2 linked regions of the Homo sapiens genome follow. The protein of the gene in region 1 purifies or fractionates together with the protein of each later gene. This does not show direct contact. Each region holds a gene or a part of one and is shown on either strand. Other genes may lie near its edges.

Evidence for each region. Proteins that work in one complex are often made in the same cells at the same time.
Region 2: the proteins of ATOH1 (region 1) and CCDC124 purify together in Homo sapiens (affinity purification with mass spectrometry, with the first as the bait; one study listed by BioGRID). This does not show direct contact.

Annotation. Positions count from the first base shown.
Region 1 is NC_000004.12:93,827,565-93,831,464, reverse strand, and holds ATOH1 (transcription factor ATOH1), read right to left. Parts: upstream 2,713-3,900; 5' UTR 2,539-2,712; coding exon 1,474-2,538; 3' UTR 501-1,473; downstream 1-500. UniProt on the Homo sapiens protein: Transcriptional regulator. Activates E box-dependent transcription in collaboration with TCF3/E47, but the activity is completely antagonized by the negative regulator of neurogenesis HES1.
Region 2 is NC_000019.10:17,939,515-17,943,014, reverse strand, and holds part of CCDC124 (coiled-coil domain-containing protein 124), read right to left. Parts: intron 360-3,500; coding exon 170-359; intron 1-169. UniProt on the Homo sapiens protein: Ribosome-binding protein involved in ribosome hibernation: associates with translationally inactive ribosomes and stabilizes the nonrotated conformation of the 80S ribosome, thereby promoting ribosome preservation and storage.

The sequences.
Region 1 (3,900 bases):
TTTCTGTTATCATCTTTGTCTCTTCTGGTCTTCTTCTCCCAGAAGAGAGAGAGAGAGAGGCATAGACAGTGTGCACTGCGCTTGACCTATGTGAAAAATTTTCAGCTTGAGTAGGTTTTATGAGTGGACATAGCTAACCCTGGTAAAGTTAACTACTCCAGGCTAGGTTCTAGCAAACCTAAAACTTATGGCCTCCCCCCCTTGCAGATGTTGTTGGGGCAAGGAGTAAAGAAGACTGGGAAGATCCTGGCCATCAAAGAGGCAAAACTGTGCTGCAAATTTGGAAGAAGTTTTATCTCACAATTTAATTATTGACTTGAGTGCTTTTCTTTGAAGGGGTTTTGATACTACCTGAAGGCACCAAGTTTACAACATTTTTCTTCAAAACTGTAAGATCGCATAAATGACATTGAATAGAAGACTTAACTCAATTCTTCAAAGTCATTCATTTGAAAATTGTTTTCAGTAGTTATACTCAAGGAATAAGTGACAAAAGGCTTCTTTTCACATTTATTTTAATCATTTGCAAAACAAAATACATTAAACAAGGGCAGTTGGCTTTGCTAAATTAAAATAAAATGATCTCGAGTAGAAAACGTAAAAAATGAATCAAGATAAGTAGAAATGGTAGCAAACAATAATAAATAAGTTTTCTAATATTAACAAAGCAAAATAAAATTGACCAAATGCGTTTGACACTACTAGATTTTTTTTAATTTTTCATTTTTTAAACAAACATTTGCAAAGAGCTTAAGAATTATAAGTGGCTGTGTTTAAAAAAAAAAAAACTGGTCTGCAATTGGCAGTTGAGTTTCTCCTGGAGCCACCACCGCAGCAGCGGCTGATAAAGTGCGTGCGCGGAGTTTCCTAAAAGACGCCAACGTTCTCGCGATCGGATGCACATACTGGGTATGTTTATACAATATATAAACCTTAAAGTTTCTTGTTTTCTAACAATTCCATAGTCAAAAGTTATCCACTTTGGAAGCACTAATTTTGCGTTTCATTGTGCATTTTGGAAAACAACTTCGGAAGACTAAATCTCCCACACTTGAGTGCGCAACACACAAGGATGGATGCCCAGGGCGTAAAATAAATTAAACCCAAACCAGTGACAGAGAAGATGCGACGTTTTAGCAGCGTATTGGCAGCAGGGAACTAGAATAATGATGCCATATACGGGTACCTACAATTATACCGTATCTATCTAAAGGGGGAGCAGAAGGTGGGCGGAAAGGACACAATTTTAACAGAAAGTTTTCATCAAACAATATGGACCGTAGGAAGTTTGGAACAGCGGCGGCATTTGCAAACCATCAAATGTAGCTGCCATCTGAAGCCAAGTCGTTGCTAAACAACGACCATCGCAGAGCAAAAATTAAAGGGTGCGGGGATCTTTAACCGCGGGGCTTCCCGCGCACTGGGAAAGGGCAGTTTTGTTTCTGTCTCAGTTTTCAGGCTTCTGTCACCTTCCTAACTTGCCTCATCCGAGTCACTGTAATGGGAATGGGGGGAAAATTCCCCGTCGCTTCTGTGGGACCGAGGCGAAGTTTTGCTGTTTTCCTCCTGCACTGGCTGCAAGATGCTCCCGGGGAGAGAAGGAGACAAATTCTTTTGCGCCATCATCGCTGTCAGGGCGCTGTCCTCGAAAGTCGAGAAGTGCAGAGCGTCCAGCTGCACCGAGTACCCTCCCGCAGAAGCTGGGGCTGAGAAGCGAGTCCGGCAACTCCCGGGCGGGGTCGGCCGCTGGCTCCCTCCGGAAGCCTGCTGAGCCCCAGCTGCGGTCGCGTTGCCCGCGCCCCCTTCATAGGAGGCCGCGGTGCGAAGGTGGTGGTGGTCGCTTTTGCAGGAGGCTGGAGGCGGCGGTGGCTGTTCCCCTCCGCTGGGCGTTTGTAGCAGCTCGGACAAGGCGTTGATGTAGATTTGGGCCATCTGCAGGGTCTCATATTTGGACAGCTTCTTGTCGTTGTTGAACGACGGGATAACATTGCGCAGCTGGTCGAAGGCGTGGTTCAGCCCATGCATCCTGCGCCGCTCCCTGGCGTTGGCTGCTAGCCGTCTCTGCTTCTGCACCCCATTCACCTGTTTGCTGGAAGGGGCCCGTTGGCGGCTGCAGCCCAGCTCGTCTACCACCACCCCGCCTTTCAGCTTGCACAGCTGTTCCCGCACTTTCACCGGCCCGGGGCTCTTGCTGCTGCTGGCACCGCCGCTGCTCCTCCTTACCAGCTCCCCCCGGCCGTCCACCTCGTCCCGGGGCGCAGCGGCCTCTGAGGCACCCAGCTCCGGGGAATGTAGCAAATACTGGGCGGCGCGTGCCGTGCAGATGCCCTGCAAAGTGGGAGCCAGCCAGGCGCGTGGGTCGGTGCTGTCCAGGAGGGACAGCTCAGGCGGGTAGACGGGATGCTCTCTCGCCTGCAAAGTTGCAGGTGGCTGCGGCGGCGGCGGCGGTTGCGGGAGATGATGCGGCTGGGGCTGGCGATGGTGGTCTCCCAACTCCTTCACTTCAGCCCACTCTTCTGCATGCAGCAGGCGGGACATTGCACTGCAAAGGCTCGGAGGCTCAGGATCGGAGGCAGCACTGGGACACCAGCTCAACCAAAAAAAAGGCCCTTTCCGGGTCTCTTCTGCAACGTCTTATTTTTTTTTCCCTCCTCGACCCTCCCCCACCCACTCGGAGATCACACACCAGGTCGCGTGCAACTATGCTTCTCCGGTTGCTGAAGGCGCTGCGCCCCTTTAAAAAGCGGCACGCGCCACTCAGTCTCCCCCCGCTCCTCTCCCAACCCCCTCCTCGCGCCGGTCGCGTGTCTTCTCAGCCAATGGAGGGCGCGGGCAGGCGCGTGCGAGCAGCCAATCAAAGAGTTTTTACACCCCGAGAAAAGTTCTTGTGTGCAGAGGACTCCCAAGCCTGCTCAGGTTTTTTTTTTTTTTTCCTTCTTTTAAATTCGTCAGATTCATATGTTAATTGCAGGGCTGTAATTCGACTCCGGTGTGTGTCACCACCCCGGCGGCTGGGGTGCGGGAGCGGTGCGGAGCCGGCTCTCGGCTGGTGCCCAAGCTGACTCGGGTCAGATGTGCACGACCGCGGGCGGCTCTGGGCGATTCTGGACCCGCCAGGCGCCCAGAAGCCACTCAAAGCAGAGAGAAGGCCGCCTACCCTGTGCTGCCCCCAAGCTAGGATCACAGCTCCCACTTCTGATGCCCAAGCATTTACGATTTCTCATGTATAATAGGATGTTTGTATTTATGTATGCAGGTATTTATAAATCTCTCATGCATGTTCATAGATATATAACTGCTACATGACGTCCATCATTTAAGATTGCTGTTGGAATAAAGGGGGAAAACCCACTCGTCTCAGAGTATGTTTCTTACTTTTGCTCCATCTTTTCATTTTTTACTTCAGATCTCTTAGTTCGACTTCGTCATATGATCTTTTTCTTAATGGAAAATAGAGCTGCGGTGTAGTGATAGCACACCAAATTCCAGATCCCCCAATTCTCTCTGTCCCCTTTCCCCAGCACCCTGCGGCCAATTAGGATTGTAATCTGCCTAAATCTCTCCGTTGAGTGTAATTTAGGGCCAGAATATTTTACGGTATTATGCAGAGTTTCAACACACACAGTAGGACTCCTCATTAAATGCCCAGCCAGGGGAGGGTGCCCAAAGTAAAATGAAAGGCGCCTGCATTCCCTGCAATCCTTAACACTTTCAAGGCACAGAAGTCCCAAGTTACCTACCCTTTTGCCTCGATCGCCCTCTCTTTACTGCGGGCTCGTGGCTTCCTCAGTTTAACCTCCTCCCGCCCCTCCGTTTAGTTAGGGTGGGCTTCCCCTTTCCAGCCCCCACCCCCACCCCACTCCGCCCCATACAATCAGGGAGGTCCTTGGCAAGGGGGGG
Region 2 (3,500 bases), on another chromosome or scaffold:
GAGGTTGTCTGCTCACGGCCAGGCCTACCAGGAGGCGGCCTACCCACCCACCCTGCACCACGTGGAGCCCCGGCAGCTTCTCTGGGGGCCAGGAGGGGGCTAATGGACTCAAGGTCCACTGCCTCTGCAGTGGGCAAAAGTGCAGCTCCAGAGCGGGATGCCGCCCGACCTGTGTCCGGGGCCTCCCTGAGCTGATGGTCTCGGCGCAGCGTGTCCTCGATCTGGGCCCGGGTGACCTTGCTGGACGTGGCCACCCGCGGCGCCTTGCCGCCCTTGAGCTTGGAGTCCTCCTCCTCCAGTAGGCGCTGCGTCTCCTTCTTACGTTCCAGCTGGTCGAGGCGCCGCTTCTCCTTCTCCTCCTGCGGGGGCGGCGTGCATGGTCAGGCAGAAGACCCCACACCCCCGCGCCACCCACTAGCCTGGGGTTCGAGTTTTCATCTCAGCCAACGAGGATTTAGGCTCTGTGCTGGGTGCAGGGGACATACCAGGAACAAGATAGGTCCCGGTGCTGCCCTGGGCGGGGGATGTGAGGCCAACAGGGGAACCTTGGACAGGGCGGGTGGGTGGCTCTTGAAGAAGTGACGCTCCTAGGTGCGAAGAGCGCCGGCCAAGGGGGAGAGCTGGGGAACAGGAGCGTCCTTAGCAGCAGGGCTACCAGTGCAAAGGCGCCGAGGCAGGAGCCATTTGTTGTAACAGGAACAGCTTGGAGGCTGGAGTGGGAGTGAAGCGGGAGGGGGAAGAGGCCGGGAGGGAGACGGCTGGGCCATGCGGAGCCTCTGGGGGCCAGGGAGGGGTTCATGTTGGATTCTAAGAGCCGTGGGAGGCCTGGACCCGTTTCAGGCTAGGGCAGGGGCTCTGCCCTTATGAGTCGGGCAGCACTGTCCACGTTTCCCTGCCGTGGGTCACTGAGGCTGAAACTGATTCCACATCGGCCGCCCAGGGAAGCCCTGATGCTGGCTGGATGAGGGACATCTGGGCTACGGGACTTGCCCTTGCCCTGGCCTGCACGGACCCCAGGGGGCCGAGCAAGCCCACGGTTTATATGCAGTGCTGCTGGAAGCTCAGGGCAGTACTCTGCCCACTGCCTGGCACTCCTGCAGGGCCCTGGTCTCGGACACCCCTGCCTGCCCCCTCACTGCCTGAGACTCCACCATCTGACTCTCACACCTTCAGCCTTCCCAGGGACGATCCCCACACCTGCAGTGTCCCCCTGGGACACTACCACTGCATCTCCAGATAGATTTGACAGAAGGGAATGTCGCAGAATAGGGGTGGACGCACCTAAGGACACTGCCAGGGCCTGACCCCCACCCCCACCAGCACAGCAGGAAAGTGGAGGGGGCGGTTAAAGTCAAGGCTGTTGGAGTGCACAAACTGGGCTCCCATTGCTGTGCTGAGGAGCCTTAGTTTCCCCCTCGGTCAGAGGCAACGTCCCGAGGCTCCCCGACCGATGCGTGTCACACACACATTCTGCCTCAGACAGGGTCCTTTTTTTTTTTTTTTCTGAGACAGTCTCTCTCAGTCGCCCAGGCTGGAGTGCAGTGGTGCGATCTCGGCTCACTGCAACCTCTGCCTCCCGAGTTCAAGCAATTCTCATGCCTCAGCCTCCCAAATAGCTGGGACTGCAGGTGCCCACCACCACGCCTGGCTAATCTTTTGTAATTTTAGTAGAGACGGGGTTTCACCATGTTGCCCAGGCTGGTCTCGAACTCCTGACCTCAAGTGATCTGCCTGCCTTGGCCTCCCAAAGTGCTGGGATTACAGGTGTGAGCCACTGTGCCTGGCCAATGCATGATGTTTGAAGTGAGGAGAGGTATCACTGGTGGGGGACTGACCAGGAGGGGTATGAGGGAAACTCACGGGGGCTGAGAATATTCTAGAGAGCAGGGGTTGACAAACTATAGCCAACTAGCCAACTGCCTTCTTTGGTAAAGGTTTTTTGTGTTTTTTTCGTTCGTTTGTTTTTTCGAGACGGAACCTTGCTCTGTCGCCCAGGATGGAGTGCAGTGGCGCCATCTCGGCTCACTGCAAGCTCCTCCTCCCGGGTTCATGCCATTCTCCTGCCTCAGCCTCCTGAGTAGCTGGGACTACAGGTGCCTGCCACCATGCCCGGCTGATTTTTTGTATTTTTAGTAGAGATGGGGTTTCACCGTGTTAGCCAGGATGGTCTCGATCTCCTGACCTTGTGATCTGCCCACCTCGGCCTCCCAAAGTGCTGGGATTACAGGAATGAGTTACCGCGCCCGGCCCTTTTTTTTTTTTTTTTAGGTGGAATCTTGCACTGTCGCCCAGGCTGGAGTACAATGGTGCAACCTCTGCCTCCCAGGTTCAACCGATTCTCCTGCCTCAGCCTCCGGAATAGCTGGGATTACGCACACCCGCCACCACGCCCGGCTAATATTTTGTATTTTTAGTAGAAATGGGGTTTCACTATGTTGGCCAGGCTGGTCTCGAACGCCTGACCTTGTAATCCACCTGCCTTGACCTCCCAAAGTGTTGGGATTACAGGTGTGAGCCACCATGCCCGGCCCCTTTGGTAAAGTTTTATGGGCATGCAGCCACACCTATTTGCTAACCTACTGTCAGTGGTGGCCTTCATGCTCAATGATAGGGTCTAGTGGCTTCCTGTCTGGCCCTAAGTGAAGTCTAAGCTATTCACCACCTGGCCCCAATTGCCTGTCCAACCCCCTCCATACCTTGTCCCGGATGCATGCAATACAGGTGTGCTCAGAGGTACATGCTTTCTGACCCACACTCCTAGGACAGGCATGCTTTGCTGTCCCTTAATCAAATCTCTTAACAGGCCAGAGGCGGTGGCTCACGCATGTAATTCCAGCACTTTGGGAGGCCGAGGTGGGCGGATCACTTGAGGTAAGGAGTTGGAGACCAGCCTGGCCAACATGGTGAAACCCCATCTCTACTAAAAATACAAAAATTATCCAGGCATGGTGCCATGCCTGTAATCCCAGCTACTTGGGAGGCTGAAGCAAAAGAATCGCTTGGACCTAGGAGGCGGAGGTTGCAGTGAACTGAGATCACGCCACTGTACTCCAGCCTGGGCAACAGAGACTGTCTAAAAAAAAAAAAAAAAAGGCCAGGTGCGGTGGCTCACACCTGTAATCCCAGCACTTTGGGAGGCCGAGGTGGAAGGATCACTTGGGGCCAGGAGTTTTAGACCAGCCTGACCAACATGGTGAAACCCCATCTCTACTAAAAATGCAAAAATTAGCCTGGCATGGTGGCGCACACCTGTAATCCCAGCTACTCGGGAGGCTGAGGCAGGAGAGTTGTTTGAACTTGGGAGGCAGAGGTTGCAGTGAGCCGAGGTCGCGCCACTGCACTCCAGCCTGTGCGACAGAGTGAAACTCTGCCTCAAAAAAAAAAAGCCTCTTAACAAAGGAGAAGGTGCCAGTCTGGCTCCAGCTCTTCCTCATAGCCACGTGATCTGGGCTTTCTGCCTTCTCTGCCTCAATTTCCTCATCCAGAGGATGGGGCCAACC